3 linked regions of the Homo sapiens genome follow. The protein of the gene in region 3 interacts with the protein of the main gene of each other region in a pairwise test. Each region holds a gene or a part of one and is shown on either strand. Other genes may lie near its edges.

What was found.
Region 1: the proteins of TSGA10IP (region 3) and CEP70 interact in binary tests that used the Homo sapiens proteins (3 or more experiments, as listed by UniProt).
Region 2: the proteins of TSGA10IP (region 3) and TRIM50 interact in binary tests that used the Homo sapiens proteins (3 or more experiments, as listed by UniProt).

Annotation. Positions count from the first base shown.
Region 1 is NC_000003.12:138,591,261-138,598,917, forward strand, and holds the start of CEP70 (centrosomal protein of 70 kDa), read right to left. Parts: upstream 3,001-7,657; 5' UTR 2,938-3,000; exon of another isoform or gene 2,449-2,937; intron 697-2,448; 5' UTR 603-696; coding exon of another isoform or gene 594-602; intron 1-593.
Region 2 is NC_000007.14:73,325,083-73,332,163, reverse strand, and holds the start of TRIM50 (E3 ubiquitin-protein ligase TRIM50), read left to right. Parts: upstream 1-4,081; 5' UTR 4,082-4,264; intron 4,265-6,588; exon of another isoform or gene 6,589-6,699; intron 6,700-7,081. Other genes in the region: inactive peptidyl-prolyl cis-trans isomerase FKBP6, read right to left, coding at 388-507, 1,812-2,014, 2,715-2,804, 3,472-3,589, 3,679-3,735. UniProt on the Homo sapiens protein: E3 ubiquitin-protein ligase that ubiquitinates Beclin-1/BECN1 in a 'Lys-63'-dependent manner enhancing its binding to ULK1. In turn, promotes starvation-induced autophagy activation.
Region 3 is NC_000011.10:65,941,066-65,948,497, forward strand, and holds the start of TSGA10IP (testis-specific protein 10-interacting protein), read left to right. Parts: upstream 1-4,414; 5' UTR 4,415-4,610; coding exon 4,611-4,757; exon of another isoform or gene 4,758-4,801; intron 4,802-5,814; coding exon 5,815-5,951; intron 5,952-6,044; coding exon 6,045-6,763; intron 6,764-6,935; coding exon 6,936-7,083; intron 7,084-7,432.

The DNA of each region.
Region 1 (7,657 bases), on a different chromosome or scaffold from region 3:
GCTTCAGGCTGTGTGTATAAGCTGTATATGAAACAATAAATGAATTTTGTGTTTAGAGTTACCCAACTCTAAACAAGATACCTCATGTATATACAAATATTCCAATTTTTTTTTTAATCTAAAAGTCCAAAACATAGTTCCAAGCATTGCAGGTAAGGGATACTCAACCTGCAGAGCTCTGTAGCCAGACTGCCTGGGTTCAAATCATGGATTCTGCCACACAGCCAGGAGAGTACAGTACTAATCTCTGTGTGCTTCAATTTCCTCATCATAAAATAAGGATAATAAAAGTACTCAGCTCACGAGTTAAAGATTAGAAGAGTTAATATAGAAAGAACATAAAGCATTGTCTGGCACACAGCAGGATGGAGACTGTGATTAGAGTTGGTGATCAGCTTTCTGTGTTATCTTAAGTAGGTATTTAACCTCTCTGAGCTTCAGCTTCTTTGCTGAGTTGTAAAATATCTACCTGATAGGATTATCAGGAAGTCAAAAGGAAATATATGTAATGAACCTAGTATAGTACTCAATAAATATTAGATTTTTTTCCATGGCCTCCCAACATCTGGAGTCATCCGTTACATTAGACATACCTCAGTCATAGCATATTACTCTTGCACTTTACACCTGGTCATTCAGGTTGATCTCAATGAAATGATCACCCAACGAGTCTCATGTCTGAAACTGGATCTTCATCTAGGTTTCAAAAAGATAAAAAGAACAAAATCTTGAAATGTTCAACCTCCTAGTAAGAATGGTCTTGTGTTACTCCCAGAGCAGGCATCCAAGGTACTGGTAATCACAGATAAAGCAGGCACAACTGAAATAACTGCTAATGGCCTTCCCAGCTCACCATCATATGCCTCTTCCCTTCTCTTCTCTCTCCTTCTTATCTTTCCTCTCCCTACCTTGTTAAGACATTTAGCTGGGTATCCAAATCTATCATCATCTATCATCAATTCTGACTTCTGGCTCCACAGGTAGGATATTCTCATTTGCAAGGATACTAAAATGAAGCATCCTCAGACAAACTACCACTGATCACAAAAGCAAACACAGGAACAAAACTACTCCTCATTTGCACCTGTGACCAAGCCCTCCTTTTCAGAGGACCATTCTGTGAAATAAACGGGCCAATAGTTTGCAGCAGCCTTTTCCCCACTACAGGCTGTGACAGGACAAAGGTCTGGAACTTTAAAGTCACAGGAAGAGACCAAATGCTTTCTAGGGCCAAAACAGAAGCTACAGCTTTAATTACTGTCATAACACACTTAAAATAAGATTGTTGGGGGTAGGAGTCGGGGGGTAGGAGTCGGAGGGTAGGAGTTGATTTGTACATGGCATAGTAAGCCAAGCATAGAAAAGCAAAAACATAATTGCATCTTCTGGCACTTTCTAGGTTTCCCGAGTCTTTCAGCCAAATTGCCCTTTATAGGTCTGAAGCCCCTTGTAACATGCTCCATATCTTAAAATTTAATTATTTTTTTCACCATTTGGGGTGGGGGAGGGGAGCTGACAATAAACCATGGCCAATAACTGTTCCTTCTCAACTGAATCACACCAAAATCTGTAAGCATCTTCAAAAGTATATACTTCAAATTACTGCAATAAATGAACATGTAACCCTTTCGAAGTCTCTATTCCTTATTAAATGCAAAAGCTCTATTCTAAAAATATTGCAACTTGCTGTTTAATGTTCCTAAGAAAGAGCTGAACTTACCCCAAATAGGAAAGAGTTAAAATGGAATGTCATCTCAACCAAATCATTCTGTCTCAGGAGAGGTGACATGAAGGGGCAGAACCTTGCTTTGAAGCAAAAGCTGTAGGGAAAACTCCAAGTCAGCCACCTCTTCCCCAAAAGGCGGGGCAGGGGAGGCCAGAGTCTACTTGGCAATATTTAAAGTACAAAACTCATGCAGAGGCTTGAAACCAATATGGGTAATGCCTGCACAGAGTTTAATATATTATACATATATTTTTGAGACAGAGTCTCGCTCCGTCACCCAGGCTGGAGTGCAGTGGCGCGATCTCGGCTCACAGCAACCTCCGCCTCCCGAGTTCAAGCGATTCTGCTGCCTCACCCGCCCGAGTAGCTGGGATTACAGGCGCACACCACCATGCCCAGCTAATTTTTGTATTTTTAGTAGAGACGTGGTTTCATCATGTTGGCCAGGGTGGTCTCGAACTCCTGACCTCAGGGGATCCGCCCACCTCGGCCTCCCAAAGTGCTGAGATTACAGGCGTAAGCCACTGCGCCCTGCCTGTTTAATATCATTGATTGAAAAACAAAGTGGCAGTAAAAAAGGAAACTCTGATTGGTCTCTCTGTTACAGGTGACTTAGCCTTCTGGCATTTTTCACCTTGAAAAACTCCTATTAGGCCCTGTATAAAGTCAGAGGTCTCCTGAATCCGGAATGAGGTTAATAAACTGGAGAAAGAGATACTCACCTGTGCTATTCGCCTAACCGCCCCCTTCTGCTCCGAGTCCTCACTCCCCAAACAACCTTCGCGGTTGTTTGACACAAAACTAGCGCTTCAGCCCGGGTCGATTTTGGGGGATGGAGTAATTACCTACAGCTTAAATCGAGTCTGTGCCCGACGTGATTCTAAGCTTTACTCTTACTGCCTCATTTAACCCTCACAACCACCTTGTAAGGCAAGAATTACCAGCTTTAGTATACAAATAAAGAATCGGAGGCGCTGAGACATTAAAGGAGAAGCCAAAGAACACAAAGCCTGGGGAGCTGGGACTGGAGGCAGTTTTGTCCGATCCCCAAACCCTTACGCAGGGATTTTTAATTGGCGCGACCCTGTCCCAGATGGCTCCTCCCCGACAAGGGTCAGTCTGACCACTTTTAGGCCCAGGTGAGGTCAAGTCCGGGGTACTCCGGGAAGGGGCTCACGCCGACGCCTCTGAGAGCCCCGAGAGCCACTCACCTTACTCAGTCGCCGGCCTCCCACCAGCAGCCAGCCGGGCCAGGTTAGGCTGGGATCAGCTACGTCAGGCCCCGCCTCCGCGACCGTTACCACCGCCGGGGGAGGGCGGCCAATCGAGCCCGAGCGCGTCGAGGGCCAGCCCCTCTTTGGCCTGCGAATGCCCCCAAACGATTCTCTCCAGCCTCTCCGGGAAGCTGGGTCCGCCCCGCTCCCTCCGGTTGGCTCACTACGGGGGGCGGGGCTTACCGCAAACGAAGGCGTCGGTGCGATGTGCTGGTCTCGGGCACGCTGGCGCTTCCAACGCACTCCTTGGGTGCCCTGTCACTTACATGGAGGCTTATTTGCCCGGAAGACGTCAGAAATACTTGTGGCCGTGGGTGAAAGTGAAGCCTGGGTTACCTGGCCACCAGAGACTGCCCTCTCTCTCGCCCCCTACCCCGCCGCGACTACGAGCCCTTGCTGGGGTACGGGTCAGCATGTTCTCGATGTTCCAGACCTGAATGACCACTGTAGCAGCTGACATTTGGAGGACCCCAATAAATATTTGTTGACGACAGTTCATCTTCCCATTCAGCATTTTCCACATCTCGACGAAGCGTCAGGCCCTACCTGAGGCTGTAGCTGTCCACCATTGTCATTGTATCTTATAGCCACATGGTGTCGCTGTTGACAACTTGTCTTTTCAAATCAGTCAAATGATGTAGGTCTGTGTTACAGTCAAATGTTGCAACAGACTGTGTTGCAGTCAAATGATGCAGGTCCCACAGTAGCCAACAGGGATGTCCCATCTAGGGCATCAGCCAAGGGTCTCTCATCAGGAGATCCAAGGGCTCTTGGAGCTCAATACTTTCAGACCCTTCTTAGCCTTCTTCCAGGCAGCTGGGACTACACTTAGGTTTGATCTCTGTGTTTGCCCCATGCAAACATGTCCCTACCCCAACCTACGCCTACCCACTGTGCTTTCCATACCTGGATATTCACTCTAACGACGGTTAGCAGATTGCATTTTCAGTTCTCAAAATGCAAATAGTCTCAGTGCTTCCCTTTTCCAAGATAATAGGGTGCCCTTGCATACTCTTCTGAGAATGGCTGCCCTAATTGTAGAGGCCAAACATCTTTGAGTCAGTTATTATTATTTTGGATGCACGTGATATAGAATCTGAGTTAAACTGTCTTCCTAAAAAATAAAGAAGTTGCTTATCTCGCATAACAGAAAGCTCAGAGGCAAGGGAGACTTTGATTAATTCAGTGGCTAAGCAAGTTAACAAGGACCCAGTTGCTATTAGTCTCTGCTTTGTTGTAAAAAAAAAAAAGGGTAGACTTCAAATTCATACTAACGTGATTTTCCAGATGTCTACTTGGAGAAATCAGGACCACATACTTTCTTTTTCATCTAAAACCTTTCCTTCTGGTTTTTTGAGCCAATAAGTTCACACAGGCACACACTCTTCCTCTTTACCAGTAACTGCCTGGGAAATGTACAGACAGCTTAAGCCTGGGTTCCAGAAGTGAAAAGGAGCTATGACAATTGGAATTGGCAATGGTGTCAGTGCTCTTTGAGTCACATGAGTTGCAAGGTGGAGACATGGCTATTTGAATAAAACTGGAGACCTGTAAAGGAGAAGAGGAAAATGGATGCTAGATGGATGATCACCAGTATCTTTCACAGTCTTCAAAGCACAAGAAGGCTGATTCCTCTCTATTTTCTAACTGAATTTTTTATGTGGTGAATGGAGGGGAAGAGTTGCTATAGCACTGCCCTCCAAAACAATTCCCTTCTTATGGACCATGAAAGCCTTTCCAGCACCTCTCTTTGCTAGAGAAGGAAAACATCCCTGCACACAAACTTAGTCTTTCACTGAGAATCCTGCTACATTGGTCTCAAGAGTTTTCTATGGGCCTCATCTACCCAATAGAATTCTAATAATTCTAAACATTCATTTAACATTCATTCATTTATAAAAATGTGTTGGCCGGGCACAGTGGCTCACGCCTGTAATCCCAGCACTTTGGGAGGCCAAGGTAGGTGGATCACCTGAGGTCAGGAGTTCGACAACAGCCTAGCCAACATGGGGAAACCCCATCTCTACTAAAAATACAAAATTGGCCGGGTGTGGTGGCACATGCCTGTAATCCCAGCTACTTAGGAGGCTGAGGCAGGAGAATCGCTTGAACCCGGGAGGCGGAGGTTGCGGTGAGCCGAGATCTCACCATTGCACTCTAGCCTGGGCAACAAGAGCAAAACTCCGTCTCAAAAAAAAAAAAATTTTTTTGTTAAGCACCTGTTTTGTACCAGGGATTGAACTAGATGCTGAGTCAGATTTATAAGTGGGGGAGTTTACAATAGTAAGTAAGCCCAGTTGTGATTCCTGCCTTCGTGGATCTTATAGTCTAACTGCGGAGAAAATATGAAACAAATGCAATTAAGTATATATTATTAATATAATAAGTGATATCAAAGAAGAGAAGAGGGGCTATGGAGGAAGCCTCTCTGATGAAGTGACACTTAAGTTGAAAGCCAAGCATGTCTTCATTTCGGCTTTCTGCTTTCCTCTGTACTTTGGCTTCCTAGCATAAATTATAACTTTCATTAGCAGTTAAAACACATCTTTTATTTCTCAACTTCTTTTTTTTTTTTTTGAGACGGGAGTCTCGCTCTTGCCCAGGCTATAGTGCAGTGGCGTGATCGTGGCTCACTGCAAGCTCCACCCCCCAGTTCACGCCATTCTCCTGCCTCAGCCTCCCGAGTAGCTGTGACTACAGGCGCCTGCCACCACGCCTGGCTAATTTTTTTTTTTTTTTGGTATTTTTAGGGGTTTCACTGTGTTAGCCAGGATGGTATCAATCTCTTGACCTTGTGATCCACCTGCTTCGGCCTCCCAAAGTGCTGGGATTACAGGCGTGAGCCACTGCACCCGGCCTAATTTCTCAACTTCTAAACTGATTCTCAAATTTTCTTCTGGGTATAGAACTGTCATATTTCTCCCTAGAAAAACATGAGTATATCATATGTAATGGTAATCATGATGAATTCTCAAAGATTCTTCAACTCATAAGTTTTTTAGACTTAGATTCCTTTATTACATGAATACATTTGTTTCTGCCTTTTCCACAAGAATTTGAACCCCTGGGAACATGAACCATGTCTTACTAAACTTCATCCTGCAGCTAGCATATTTCCTTGGTGCACAGTAGGTGCTAAACACAGCTTTGAACTGTAGCAGGACTAACCACAGACAAAACCTCTCAGACGCTGAGTTGTATAAGGAAGGGCTTTATTCAGCTGGGAGCATCAGCAAGCTACTGCCTTAAAATCCGAGCTCCCTGAGTGCACAATGTCTGTCCCTTTTAAGGGCTCACAACACTAAAGATTTCACATGAAAGGGTTGTGATTGATTTGAGCAAGCAGGGGGTATGTGACAGGGACTGCATGTACTGGTGGTCAGAGAGAAACAGAACAGGGCAGGGAGTTTCACAATGTTCTTCTATACAATGTCTGGAATCTATGAATAACATCGGTTTCTAAGTTATGAGTTGATTTTTAACTACTGGGTTTAGGCCAGGCAGGCCCAGGCCTGGTTTCGGGCCAGGCGCCGGGCTGCCTGTCTTTGGTTTTACTTCCTTGTTGTTTTTTCTTAAAACAGGTACTGAGTATAAAACAATATAAAATAATATGAGAGGGTCTTTCTCTTCTTTCAGAACTACATTGTTAAATTTGAGTCAAATTTATTCAGAGCATTCACCTTCAGTAGTCATTTTCCAATGTGAAGGACAATATGCAAACAGCTGAGGCAAATATATTAATGACAAATGCTCAATAATCCATACAGAATAACAATAGTTATGTTAATTGGGCACTTAAAATGTGCTAGGCTCCGAGCTAAGCACTTTCATTTTCTAACTTGTTGAATCTTCGCAACAACCTTAATATAAGTACTGTTATTATCTGTTTTACAAATGAGCAAGTTAGGAAATAGAAGCCAAAAAAATTTTGAAATGATTTGCCACGGTCACACACTAGTATATGGCAAAGCCAGGATCTGAACCTAGGCATTCAGGCTCCAAAGCCTATGTCATTAACCACTTGACCATACCACTTCTTGTGACAGACATCTGCTTTACCATCAGATTGGTATATGCATTTATTACAATTTGCAATTATTTACTGTGTATTAGTTATTGCTAATGTCTGTGTATTAGTTATCTATTGGTACATAAAAATTACCCTAAAACATAGCAGCTTAAAATAAACATTTATCATCACAATGTTTCTGTGGGTCAGGAATACAGTAGGGCTTAGCTGGATGGTCTGGACAAGATCTTTCATGGGGTTTCAGTCAACCTTTTGGTCTGGGCTACTGTCATCTCAAGGTTCAGGTGGGGCTAAAGGATTCACATTCAAACTCACTCATGCGGCTATTGGCAAGCCTCAGTTCATTCCTCCTCAAGTGGGCCTTTCCCCAGGCTGCCTTAGTGTCCTCATAACATGGCAGCTTCCCACAGAGTACACAGCCCAAAGACAGCATGTGAGCAACTAAAACAGAAACCGCAGTCTTTTTTATAACCTAATCTCAGAAGTTACATATCACTACTTCTGCCATATGCTATTGGTCACATAGACCAACCGTGGTAAAATGTGAGAGGACTACACAAGGAGATGAATACCATGAAGTGGGGATCCCTGGGGCCCATCTTGAAGAATGGCTACCACAATTTATTT
Region 2 (7,081 bases), on a different chromosome or scaffold from region 3:
TGCCGGGCGCGGTAGCTCACACCTGTAATCCCAGCACTTTGGGAGGCCGAGGTGGGCAGATCACGAGGTCAGGACATTGAGACCATCCTGGCTAACACGGTGAAACTCTGTCTCTACTAAAAATACAAAAAAATTAGCCAGGTGAAGTGGCGGGTGCCTGTAGTCCCAGCTACTTGGAAGGCTGAGGCAGGAGAATGGCGTGAACCCAGGAGGCGGAGCTTGCAGTGAGCTGAGATTGCGCCACTGCACTCCAGCCTGGGCGACAGAGCGACACTCTTGTCTCAAAAACAAAACAAAACAAAAATCACAACAAAACAAAATCTGTGTTTTTTAAACAAGGAAGTTTTCAGGATCTAAACTTACACTTAACTTTCAAAGCATTCTCACCCTTTTATATCTCACTTTGGCATCATAGAAACGATTCTGGCGGAAAAGGTAGTTGCCAAACTCCCGTTCCGTAGCTGCCACTTTCAGGACCTTCTGAAGTGGAAATTGGTCTTGCTGCTCCTGAGGACCAGAGACAGGAATATTCAGCAAGGAAACCAAAAGCAGTAATGCCACAATGGAAGTGTTAGTACACGTGAGCCCAGGAGTTCGAGACCAGCCTGGGCAACATAGTGAGAACATGTCTCCATTTAAAAAAATAGTAATTGAAAGAAAGGAAGTGTTACTACAGCTGTGAGCTCTTCTTTTTCAGATCATGCACTTCTGTTTACAGCCTTCTGTGTTGGAGTCACCTCTGAATCTGACAGAAGCCACACCAGTGTTATAACCTGTCCCATTTTACACCCTAGAGCCAGAAGGAAGTCTACGTCTTCAGTCTTCCCCTGATGTTCTCTGAGGAAGCAGTGTCCCATGGAATCAAAAACTGACGGAACTTGCCAAGCACAGAAGTCAGTGCTCAAAACCACTATTTGGCCACCAAGCACTGAACAGGTCTTGGTTTGCTCAGGGCCCTGGCAGTCTTTATGGTCATGATGCTCTGCCCTGGCCATCTTCAGAGTCACCCATAGAGCCTCTCTGGTCCCGGCCCCACCCCCCAGATCCTAAATGAGTTCACCACAGGTGGGACGAGGCATTTGCAAGAAACTCGAATCTCAGAATGATGAAAAAGGGTGAGCTCCCTCACTTGGAGTGCTGACAGTTTAGCTGGGGAGACTCCATGTGAAGATATAAACCCTGGCATGGACCTCTAAGGCCACAGATGGAGTCAGTGTGAGACAGCATGATAAAGACAGTGCCTGTGACTGCTGACGGGGTCAGAAGCCCTGCATCTACGGGACAGGGTTAAGTGAAAGGCTACAAAGAGGAGGCAAGACTTAAGTGGTGAGGACAGTGGCCATACATCCCAGTTTGCCTGGGACTGTCTCAGTTTAAACCCGATGTCATGGGTAACCCCTCCAGTGAACAGCCCCTTTTACTCTCACCTGTGCTGGGCTGGACAATCAATTATTCAGTCACCCTAGTTATGAGCTACCAATGCCTGCCTTGCTGGAAACCAAACGATGAAAAGCAAGTGTTCACTGTCTCACAGGGAGAACTAGGCAAAGGATGACTGAAAAATCAGTTCAAACCACTAATCCTTAAACTCACAGCCTTACCTTGCCCAGCACATTTATCTACACATGAGAGCCATTACTAAGACAAACACAGACTAGGAAGCAGAGGAACTCCGCCGCCACCGCACAGGAGCCGCGGGGGTACCCTGGAGAGGACGATCAGCCTCAGGGCAGGCCATCTAGAAGAATTACCAATAACACCAACCCATTCGTCTCTCTATAAAGTGCTGACATCTGTGCTCTGGAACTTACAGCTGAGAGAGCACAAAACTTGTCTGACTCAGCACAGTCCAGGAAGTCAAGCAGCTCAATCTCAAACAGGACAGTGGTGTTTGGGGGGATCAAGGGAGGGCAGCCCAGCGTTCCATAGGCGTAGTTCGGTTTGAACAGAAACCTGGCCAGCTCTCCTCTCCGCATGCTCAGAAGGCCCAGCTCCATGCCCCACAGTGTAATATCTGTAAGAATGGACAAAGAAGGTGGGTGAAGCTTGCTCAGTATCCTGCTCAGTGCTATCAGTTTCTTCCCCCTCTAAGTCAGCAGTACTCTGGCCTCCATGTCTCCCTCACACAGTTCCCTCTTCCTGCAATGTCTTCCTCCTGAGCCTGTGCCCAGCTTCTACTGATATAAATTTTATTCAAACTTCCAGGCTCAGTTCAAATGCCCCCACTTCCAGGAAGCCTTCCCTGAACCTCCCAGCTAGAATTAATCATGCCTTCATTAAGCACACCCACAACACTGCTTTCACCTCCCAGGCACTCATCCGATTCTACCAAGTGAGCTGAGTGCAGGTCAGTCTCCTCCACTACATTGTGAGGTCCTTAAGGGTGGAGATGTTCTAATCTTCTGAGTACATCCTCTCTTTTCACCATGTATTGTGGGAAGTAAGTATTCGATTGAGTTTTACTTAATAAATGAACAAAGAAACATTCCCAGTGGTTAGTTAAGTCAGAGTGCAAAGATTATACCTTGCCCGTTAAGCCATCTCCCAAATGCCTAGGTCTCAAGGGGAGAGAACATGGCTGTGTTACCAAAACCCAGCCTCAGCAAAGCCAACTCAAAGAACCTGCGCTCTGAGCAGTCTTCCCAGCCTGAGGCATCGTGCCTCATCTAGCCCCTAAACAATTCCTTCTTCTCCAGCTCCCACTCTGAACCTACCCTCTCCAAGTTTCATTAGCCGAGGAGTTTTCCTAAAGTAATTAGAATCGAAGGGTCTGTCCATGTGTTCCAGGTATCCCGAGTATTTCACTAGGATAGAAGAAAGAATGTAAGGAAAATGGACCAAAAACACCCACGCCACCATAATATCGAGTCTCTCATGATCACACAGAAACAATGTGAACAGATGAGCTTAAGCTGCCCGACACCCCGAGGTACAGGAATAAATCTTCTCTCTGCATTTTGGGTGCCGGCCCTTTGGCTCAGAGGTTCAAGAGCTTTGCGGAAGCATCACACAAAGGGGACATAGGAGTCCCTAGCTTTCGTCTTAAAAAAACTAATTCAGGCCGGAAGCAGCGGCTCATGCTTGTAATCCCAGCTACTGGGGAGGCTGAGGTGGGAGGCTCACTTGGGTCCAGGAGTCTGAGACCAGCCTGGGCAACATAGAGTCCCCCATATCTACAAAAATATTAAAAATTAGCCGGGCATGGTGGATCGCGCCTGTAAATCCCTTATTTGGGAGGCTGAGGCAGGAGAATCACGAGCCCAGGAGGTGGAGGCTGCAGTGAGCTATGATCGCACCACTGCACTCCAGCCTGGGCAACTGAGCAAGACCCCGTTTCAAAAACAAAAAACAAAAATCCACTTCAAACAAAGCATTTCCAACCCCATTAAGTGCTTTTTGAAAATGAGGCCTCTCTCTTCCCAACAGAGTGCGATGACATGGATCCTGAGGACAAACCGCCCCAGGGCGTACCTAGCACCGAAGCATCAGGCGCCACTAGGTCTCCAGCTCCTTCTCGGATGACGTCCTTCAGCACGCCCCGGTCCCCCGAGATGTCCAGCATCCTCTGACTTAACCGCTCGTACAGGGACTGATGGAGAATGAAAGCCAGGCCTCAGAGCCGCAGACCCACCCGGCCACCCCTCAGCGTCTACGCCCCCGAAACGTCTGGGCCCTCACCTGGCCGGGGGCGTCGTCCCCTTCCAGGACTCCCTGGTTTAACGCGCTTCCCCCCATGTCCTAGCTGCCCTCCCTGTGGCGTGAGCCTTCGGCCTGGTGCGCCCCGCTGCCCTCCCTGGCTGTGACTCTGGTGGGGTTCCGAAGGCCCCTTTATGCCCGGCAGACCCCTACCGACGGCGGCATTCCATTCTGGGGCCACGAGGAGGCACTCATCGTTTCGTTCCAACCGCCGCCAACGGCCCTGGCCCTCGCGAGCTCTGGAACTACAGAGGCCACGCGGTGAGGTGCGAGGTATGATCCGTAATGGGAGCGCACGAAACATGATGGGACACGTAACGGGACCACGCAGGGCACGTTGGGTACGTGCAGGGGCGCGAGGTGGCGGCACGTAATGGGAGCGCGCAGAGCATGATGGGGCACGCGCGGTAGCGCGAGGCGGGGCATGTAACCATAGCGTGCGGGTCATGATGAGGCACGGACGTGGGGGGTTAGGTGGGGCACGTAATTGGAGCTCGCGGGGCAGGATGGGGCATCTAACTGGAGCGACAGAGAGCACGATGGGGCACTTACAGGGGCCGGAGGCTGGGTACGTAACGAGAGCGAGCGGGAAATGATGGGGCACCTAACGAGCACGCAGAGCATGATGGGGCACGGGTGCGAGGTGGGGCGCACAGTGGGAGCGCGTGGGGCATGATGAGACACATGGCGAGGCCATCAGGGCACAGGGGAAGCACTTTTGGAACACGTGAGTGACAGGGCTGCCGCCCTTGAAGGAGCCCTCGGAGTGGCTGCGTGGTGGGGCACGTGGGGCAGGTTCAGGAAAAAGGATGCAGCATGTGATTGCAGGGCAACCTGGTGAGGACACGAGAGCCACCTGCCACCAGCAGGGTTCAGGGCTCCCAGCTGTGGGTTACTTCCACCTTCTTTCACTTTCTCTCTTCCATTGTGTTCTAGAGAATTTAGGCCCAGACAAGACACTGATTGATTGATTGATTGATTGATTGACAGAGGCTCGTTCTGAGCCCAGGCTGGAGTTCAGTGATGGATCTCAGCTCACTGCAGCCGCCACTCCCTGGGCTCAAGAGATCCTCTTGCCTCAGCCTCCCGAGTAGCTGGGATTACAGAACTGCACCACCAGGCCCAGCTAATTTATTTTTTAGTTTTTAATTTGCTGGAAAGATGGTTTGTAGCTTTGTTGCTAGGCTGGTCTTGAACTCCTGGCTTCAAGTGATCCTCCAGTCTTGGCCTCCCAAAGTGCTGGGATTATAGGCGTAAGCTACAGCCAACTTTCAATACTGCCCCATTGGGGGTTAAGTTTCCAACACATGAAATTAGGAGGATACATTCAAACCACAGCAGTATATTATGACCATAATATTCATTAACTGTATAACAGGACAGGCGCGGTGGCTCACACCTGTAATCCCAGCACTTTGGGAGGCCAAAGCCGGTGGATCGCTCCAGGTCAGGAGTTTGAGACCAGCCTGCCCCACATGATGAAACCCCATCTCTACTAAAATTACAAAGAATTAGCCGGGCATGGTGGCAGGCGCCTGTAACCCCAGCTACTTGGGAGGCTGAGGCAGGAGAATCACTTGAACCCGGGAGGCGGAGGTTGCAATGAGCCAGATTGCGCCACTGCACTCCAGCCTGGGTAACAAGAGCAAAACTCTGTCTCAGAAAACAAACAAAACCTGTATAACAGAGTGTCATTGAATTTCTAAACGTTGAAAGACTTCACATTAAAAAAAAAACTCACAATTCAATATTATTGAGTGAAAGTAACCAGACACAAAAGAGTACATTCTATATGATGCTGTTTATGTGAAATTCAAAAACAGTCCACATGACAACATGGTAATAAGGACAGTGGCTGTCCTTGTTAGGAGTTATGACTGGGAGGAGGCAGGAGGGAGCTTTCTGGAATCACTCTACATCTTGTTCTTGAGAGTGGGTGTATATACATCAAGTGTTTATCAAGCTGTGTGGTTAAGATTTGCACACTTGTATATGTTATACCTTGATTTAAAAAATCTAAGTAAATAAGGATACCTTTGAATATCTTAAAAAAAAAAAAAAAAGAGGCCAGGCTTGGTGGCTCACACCTATAATCCCAGCACTTTGGGAGGCTGAGGTAGGAGGATTGCTTGAGGCCGGGAGTTCAAAACCAGCCCAGGCAACAAAGCGAGACCCCTGTCTCTACTAAAATAAATAAAACAATAAAATGAAAAAAAATAGAGAGATTGAATCATCATCTGCCAGTTTGTATTAGAAAAAAAGAGAGAGAGAGGGAAGGCTGGGTGCAGTAAGGCTCACGCCTGTAATCCCAGCACTTTGGGAGGCCAAGGTGGGAGGATTGCTTGAGCCCAGAAGTTGAAGACCAGCCTGGGCAACAAAGCAAGACCCGGTATCTAAAAAAATTTTTTAAATATTAGCTTGGCATGGTGGCATGCACCTGTAGTCCCAGCTACTCAGGCAGCTGAGGTAGGAGGATGGCTTGAGCCTAGGAGTTGGAGGCTACAGTGAGCTATGACCACGCCACTGCACTCCAGCCTGGGCAACAGAGCAACAAGCTGTCTTTCCCCACCCCCCAGCCCCCCCGCCCAAAAAAAGGAGAGTAAGAGCAAGAGTTTGAGATTCAGAAAGAACTGTTTCCCAGCACCTATCTGCTCCTGTTGGGGTCATGAGGTGTGGACGGTGTACCCAGTCCCTCTGTTTCTGCCCCTCCTCCACAGTGGCCAAGGCCAGCACCTGAATGTTATCAGAGCAGGCCCAACAAAGGCTGCCTCCCCAGTCCCGTGATGTAACCCAGTTTCCACCTGATTCTGGTGACCTTGGGGACACAGGGGTGTTGCTGGGAAAGGGGAGGAGAGAAGGGGCAGAGACCAGGCAGTGGTGCAGGCGTCCAGCTGCATTTCCCACTTCTGACTCTGTGCCTGCTGTTCCCTGCTGGGAAGAAGGAAAGCCAGTGATGCTGGCTTGAGGCTGTAGTGGGAGGCCCAGCGGATTGTGAGAAGCCAGGTATTCCAATGTCGGGCTCCCCCGGGGGCTGCTGGTGCTGCTTCTGTCTCATTGACAAGCTTTCATAGGGGAGCAGGTGGGAGATCAGGGTAGAGGCCTTGTAGGTTCCAGGCTCTCTAGAATTACCTGGGAGTGTCACCTATAAGTGTAGAGTTCTGGGTCTCACTGGAGACCCCCTGAAGAAGATCCTTTGAAGGTGGGCCTCTAGAATCTCTATTACACCTATGCTTTCAACAGTTTCCCGAAAGTTTGGGAACTGATCTAGAAGGTGGGGAGCTTGCCTAGGTTTTGCTGTTCAGTTCTAGGTCCGGATGCATGCTGGGGCTGGACCTTGCATTATTAGTGTCACTGCAAATGACCCTGCAGATGGCCCCTTTCATGC
Region 3 (7,432 bases):
TAAAAATACAAAAATTAGCCAGGCATGGTGGTTTGCGCCTGTAGTCCCAGCTACTTCGGAGGTTGAGGCAGGAGAATCACTTGAACCTGGGAGGCGGAAGTTGTGGTGAGTCAAGATCTCACCACTGCACTCCAGCCTGGGCAACAGAGTAGCTGTGGACAAAGAAGACAGACGGGGCAGCTGTCCCTCTCCTGCAAGAGGAGGAGGAACTGGCAGAGGAGCTGGGGAAGAGCTGGCCACTGACCTCATGTTAGTGGGAGGGAAGGCATCGGTGATTTTGGCAGGTGCAGGCTCACAGGGTGGTGGGGGTGACAGCCTGCCTGGAGTGGGTTCAAGAAAGAAAGGCAAGGGGGAAATTGACCTTGCCCAGTGAAAACTCTTTCAGAAGGCTTTGCTGCAAAGGGAACACAGAAATGGGGCAGTGTTGAAGAAGGGGAAGTGAGTCAAGAAAGAAGGAACAGTAGTGCTGATGGAAATGATGCCAGAGAGATGAGACATTGCTGATGCAGGAGAGAGTGGGAGGACGGCCGGAGCCACATCGCTGAGCAGGCAATCAGCAAATGAATGAATGTGTGTGAAGCGGTGATAAGAGAAGCAGAGCAAATGGTGGTGCCTATTAGGGACTTAGGGGATCTGGGCAGGGAGGGCTTCTTTGGCAGGTGTCATTTTAGCAGAAACCTAGAGGTCCTGAAGGAGTAAGCCATGTGGATTCTGGGGAGAGAGCATTTCAGGAAGAAGAAACAGTCGGTGCAAAGGGCCTTAGGGCAGACTGGCTGGCGTACCGAAGGGAGAGTGTGGTTGGATCGGAGTGAGAAGGGATCATGGTGGCACTTGTGAGCAAACACCTGTGAAACATGCAGGACCTAGTGGGCCAGTAAGGACTTTGCCTTTTACTCAGCGAGACCCAGGACCCATCACAGGCGTGATGGACTCTGTTTTTTTTTTTTTGTTTTTTTTTTTTAGTTAAGGTCTTGCTCTGTTACCCAGGCTGGAGTGCAGTGGTGCAATCAGGGCTCATTCTGCCTCCTGGGCTCAAGTGGTCCTCCTACCTTAACTTCTCTAGTAGCTGAGATCACAGGCATACTCCACCACACCTGGCTAATTTTAGTATTATTTTTTGTAGAGAAGGGGTTTGCCATGTTGCTCAGGCTGGCCTCGAACTCCTGGCCTCAAGCCATCCGCCTGCCTCAGCCTCCTAAAGTGCTGGGATTACAGGTGTGAGCCACTGCGTCCAGCTGGGCTCTATTCTTCACAGAATCACACTGGTTGCTGAGTAGAGAATGGTATCAGGACAAAAGCAAAAACCGGGAGGTTGGGTGTGGTGGCTCACGCCCATAATCCCAGCACTTTGGGAGGCTGAGGCAGGTGGATGGCTTGAGGCCAGGAGTTCGAGGCCAGCCTGGGAAATATAGTGAGCTCCCATGTCAATAAAAAATAAATAAATAAGCAAAAGCCGGAGATTAAGCGTTACTGAAATGATCCAGAAGAGAGAGGGTGTTGGTTTGGAGAAGTGCTGGATTCTGCATGTATTTCAAAGGTGGAGCTGGTAGGGTTTGCTAAGGCATTAGGGGCAGAATGTGAGTCAAACGAAAGAGTCAAGGATCATGCCAGGGCGTTGACCTGAGCAACAGGAATCTCAGACATGCCCCTGACTGGGATGAGGCAGGCCAGTAGTCTGACCTTCAGCATGTCAAGTTGAAATGCTTATTTATCCAAGTGGGGATGTCAGATGGGCCACTGGATATTTAAGTATGGGAGAGGTCAGGCTGAGATACGTAAACCTGGGGACGGGTGGAAAACAGCAGGTGCTGGCCTGGCGCAGTGGCTCATGCCTGTAATCCCAATGCTTTGGGAGGCCGAGGCAGGCCAGGAGTTCAAGACCAGCCTGGACAACATGGCAAAACCCCATCTCTACCAAAAAATATAAAAATTAGCCGGGCATAGTGGCGCGTACCTGTAGTCCCAGCTACTCGGGTGGCTGAGGTGGGAGGATCACTTGAGCCTGGGAGGTTGAGGCTGCAGTGAGCTGTAATGGCACTACTGCACTCCAGCCGGGGTGACAGAGTGAGACTCTGTCTCAGAAAGCAAGCAGCAGGTGGCTTTTAAGGCCATCAGACTGGATGAGCTCACTTAGGGAGGGAGTGTGGTAAAGGAAAGAGGTCTGTATGCACCTCATGAGAATATCAACCTGAGAAACCCAGACCTGCCCTCTGCCAAGGAAGAAAGTGGCCCAGAGTTCTGGACTGTCCAGGAAATCACCTGGGGTTGAGGTCTGGAAGGGGCTCCGTTTCTGAAAGTGAAGCTGCCTACATGTGCCTTCCACTGGGCCCCAGGTGTGGGAGAAGGATGGCAGCCCCCTAGAAAGAAAAGAGTTTGCATATTTTGGGTGGCAAAAGAGCTTCACCCGGAGCAGCACTATTTAGGATATTTACATTGGATGTGCTCATTGTGAGGTGCCACTGGGATGGAGTCTGAGAGCAGAAGAGGAGCCACAGGGCCACAGTCTGAGAAAAATCCTGCCTCTATGGCATCTTCCAGGATAGTCTGCTTCCCTGGGGCCACATCATTGATTAATTAATAACAGCAACACGGCCCGGTGCAGTGGCTCACACCTGTAATCCCAGCACTTTGGGAGGCCAAGGTGGGTGGATCACTTGAGGTCAGGAGTTCAAGACCAGCCTGGCCAACATGGTGAAACCCTCTCTCTACTAAAAATACAAAAAATTAGCCGGGCATGGTGGCACATGCCTGTAATCCTAGTTACCCGGGAGGCTGAGGTGGGAGAATCGCTTGAACCCAGGAGGCAGAGGTTGCAGTGAGCCGAGATCACATCACTGCACTCCAGCCTGGGCAACAGAGCAAGACTCCATCACAAAAAGAAAAAAAAAAGATAATAAGAATAACAGCAATGCTAACATAGCAGTTCCCATGAGCCATGAGGATGTTCTGTTTGTATCTGCATAGTGATTTAATCCTTACCACTACCCTGGGAGTAGATCCGATTATAACCATCCCCTCCCCATTGCCTATGAGAAAACAGGCACCGAGAGGGTACGGGACAAGTGGAGGAGCTGGGATTTGCACCCAAGCGCTTCCTCTATGCTCTTAGCCATGATGCTCTGCTGCCTCAAAAGAACGGCCAGCTAGTGTTAGTAATAATAACATTTACCGATGTCATCGTTTGGGGTTTCATGTAGTCCTTGCAACAAACCTATGAGCTGGGCCCGTGATTCCAGTTTTGCAGAGTGGGGAGTTGGTCACAGAGCTAGTGAGACCAGGCCTCCAGCCCAGTTGGTCCGTCTCCAGGGCCTCAGCTCAGCACCACATCCCTGTACTGCAAGCCTCAGTGGTCAGCACCAGGCGTCCCATGGGGACTTAAGATTCCAAGGCTTTTGAGCACTGCTAGAAGTTTGGGGTAAGATCTTTTACTTTTTTTATATTAAAAAAATATATTTTTTTGAGATGGAGTCTCACTCTTTCGCCCAGGCTGGAGTACACTGGTGTGGCCTCGGCTCACTGCAACCTCCACCTCCCGGGTTCAAGAGAACCCGGAGAGGGAGAGCCTCAGCCTCCCGAGTAGCTGGGATTACAGGTGCCCACCACCATGCCCGGCTAATTTTTGTATTTTTAGTAGAGATAGAGTTTCAATCCAGGTGGGAGATGGGGTTTCACCATGTTGGCCAGGCTGGTCTCCAACTCCTGACCTCAGGCAATCCGCCCACCTCGGCCTCCCAAAGTGCTGGAATTACAGCCACTGCCCGGCCTGGGGTAAGCTTTCAATGTTGTAACTCCCTCCAGAACCTCATGGCCTATGAAGATGGCCAGGTGGGCCTGGGCCCAGGCTCTGAATGGCCTGCTGCCTCTCTCCTGGACACAGCATTCAACTTCCTGGCTGGGGCTGGGAGTGCAAAGATTTGTTTATTTGTTTCTTTTTTATTGAGACAGAGTCTCACTCTGTCGCCCTGGCTGGAGTGCAGTGGTGCAATCTGGGGTCGATGCAGCCTCTGCCTCCCGGGTTCAAGTGATTCTCGTGCCTCAGCCTGAGTAGCTGGGATTACAGGCATGCGCCACCAGGCCTGGCTAATCTTTTTTGCATTTTTGGTAGAGATGGGGTTTTGCCATTTTGGCCAGGCTGGTCTTGAACTCTTGACCTCCAGTGATCCACCTGCCTCAGCCCCCCAAAGTGCTGGGATTACAGGTGTGAGCCACCACTCCCAGCCTGGGAGTGCAAGGATTTAAATAAAATCTTGTGAAAGTTCAGTTTGGCTCCTTCAGGGACTCGGCCAGGCCGGGGGGCAGCACAGGAGACAGGCTGACTCCCCTGTACAGATGGATGGGGAAACACAGGCAGAGTAGGGACAGGGGACTTACACCAGGTCACACGGGGAGCCTGTGGATGAGGCAGAGGCAGGACTTGGGCCTGGGTCTCTGCGCTAAATGACTCCTGGGCATCCTGCTGAACTCTCTCCCAGAAGGAGATTGGCCTCACATACCCCACTGACCCCTTCCTAGCATGCTTTTTGCCAGACCCATTGAGACTGGCTGAGGACTGGTTGCCATAGAGATGGCCTGTTAGGCAGTTCTACGGTGCGGATGGGGGATGGGGCAGGATGGGGCAGGACACCGATATGCTAAATACCTACCAACAGTTGGTTAGGACCCCGTCGGTGCGACCAGGGCAGGACGTGCGGCTCCAGGCTCCAGGAACCAGAACGGGGCTGCTCAAGCTGCTGTCGACCGTCTCTCAGGACAAGCAGGTGAGGGAGGCCCAGTGAGGACACTTCCAGCTGCCTAGAGCCAGGTGGGTCAGGGAGGCCTGGGCTGGGGAGGCCCTTGAGAAGCCACAAGACCTGAGCTGAGGTCCAGATGAAACTCAGGGAGGCAGGAGTGGGACAGGGACCACAGGGAGGCCTAAGGGCCTTGGGAGAAGCCGAGGGATGACGCCCAGGAGTGACTCCCAGGGATGATGGGGCCATTCAGGGAACACTGCGGAAGGAGCAGGTTTCAGGAAAGATGAAGACCACCTTGATGAAGACCACCTTGGTTTCTGCCTTGGCTGTAGCAGGTCCAGGGCCCAGTGGGACATTTGGGAGTGCAGTCCAGGGCCCAGAGGTGGCCTAGCGCAATGGTGACAAATCTGGGCTCCACCACTTCCCAGCTGTGTGACCTCAGTTACTCAGCCTCTCTGAGCCTCAGCTTTCTCCTCCACATGATGGAGGTGATAGTGAGTACCGGCCTCCTAGGGTCCTTGGGAAGGTTACGTGTGTTTATGCATGAAAGTCCTGAGCACACAATAGGTGCTCAGCAGGTGGCAGCTGTTGCTATTTTAATATGCAGAACGGAGGTGGTGCTCGGTCGGGTTTTTTTGTTTGTTTGTTTTTTTGAGATGGAGTTTCACTCTTGTTGCCCAGGCTGGAGTGCAATGACACAATCTCGGCTCACTGCAGCCTCCAACTCCTAGGTTCAAGCGATTGTCCTGCCTCAGCCTCCCAAGTAGCTAGGATTACAGGCGCAGGCCACCACACTCGGCTAATTTTTTTTGTATTTTTAGTACAGATGGGGTTTCGCCATGTTGGCCAGGCTGGTCTCGAACTCCTGGCCTCAGGTGATCCGCCCCCCTTGGCCTCCCAAAGTGCTGGGGTTACAGGTGTGAGCACCACATCCAGCCCTGTTTGGTTGGTTTTTATGGTAACGAGGGCCCAGAGGGACCCAGCCAGGCCCAGCCAGGTGCACAGAGGGAGCACCCGGGTGAGGTGCAACACAGTCCAGGAGGCTGCTCAAGCTGGCTGCTCCTCCCCTACTGTCTCTGCCCAGGGCTGCCTGGGGAGTGGTGATGGTGTGCCAAATCAAGACCTGCAGCAGAGGTCTCAGAGCTCAAGGCAGACAGCAAAGAAGGACCGCAAGCCCAGGGGCCAGAGCAAGAAAGGACAGGGCTCTGAAGAGTCTGAAGAGTAAGCAGCAGTGGGATGGGTCAGGAGGCTGTTGGGGGTCAGGGCCCTCTGGGGGCTGGCGCCGACCCTGACCCCCACCCTTTCCTTCTTCAGTCACTTCCCGCTTCTTCCTCGGAAACCCTCCTTCCCCTTCCAGTGGGCCTGGGAGAGCATCGCCACAGATGTCCGGGCTGTGCTTCAGCCAAGCTCCCCAACCCCTGGCCACCAAGCCCTGCCCATGCCCTCCTCGTTCTCCCAGCGTCAGTCCAGGCGCAAGTCCACGGCCAACCTCCCAGAGGCCCATGGCTGCTGCTGGAAGACAGAGGCGCAAAACCTGAAGGCGAGACAGCAGCTGGGAGCCTGGGGCGGTGTCTCCATCCCTACTGGCAAAGGGGAGCTAGGATCAGAGCCCCCCAGTGGTCTCCAGCTGCCTGGGAGGAGGCCAGGATCAGGATCGGCGTCCGACAAGCAGGTCCAGCTGCAAAGCCTGGGTGCTGAGGAGGCCGAGAGGGGTCTGAGTTCTGGGGTGCTGCCCCAGCGCCCCAGGAGGGGGTCGATCTCAGAGGAGGAGCAATTTTCAGAGGCCACAGAGGAGGCTGAGGAGGGAGAGCACAGGACTCCCTGCAGAAGGAGGGCTGGTTGTCAGAGAAAGGGGCAGATTTCTGGAGAGGAAGCCTCCGATGAGGGAGAAGTGCAGGGCCAGAGCCAGGGGAGCAGCCCCAGCTTCAACAACCTCCGAAGGCGACAATGGAGGAAGACAAGGGCCAAGGAGCTGCAGGGGCCATGGGACCTGGAGAAGCTGCACAGGCAGCTACAGAGAGACCTGGACTGTGGTGAGCGTGGGGCTCAGAGCCTGGATTCCCCCGAAGCTACACCGCAGGGAACAGGGAGCAGTCAGGGAGGCAGGGGCTCAGGCAGGCTGGGCTGTGCTCTGGGTGCTGGGGGGCGTTGCCTGGTGGGCTGAGAGGGAGAGGGCAGCCCCTGACTTGGTCCCACTGTGGGCAGGCCCCCAAAAGCTGCCCTGGAAGACTTTGAGGGCTGCCTTCCAGGCCTCCAAGCGGAATGGAAAGGCCTATGCCTCGGGATACGATGAAACTTTCGTGTCTGCCAACCTCCCTAATCGCACCTTCCACAAACGACAGGAAGCCACCAGGTAAGAGGGAAGAGAAGGGAGTGGGAGCCCAGAATGAGAAGTAGAGATGGAGCCACTTCTCCAAGAGATGCTTAGGCATTTGAACTCTCATTCATTTCTTTATTTATCCATTCACCAAACTTTTGGATCATCCATCCATCCATCCATCCATCCATCCATCCATCCATCCACCCATCCATCCATCTATCCAACTACTGATAACATCCACTCAACCATTCATCCATCTCTCTCAATACCTGGCCAATTATCTATTGATACAACCACTTTTATTTCCCATCTTTTGTTCCATCCATCCATTAAATTATTAACTAAGTGATTAATGCAACGTTTATTATCTACTCATGGGCCC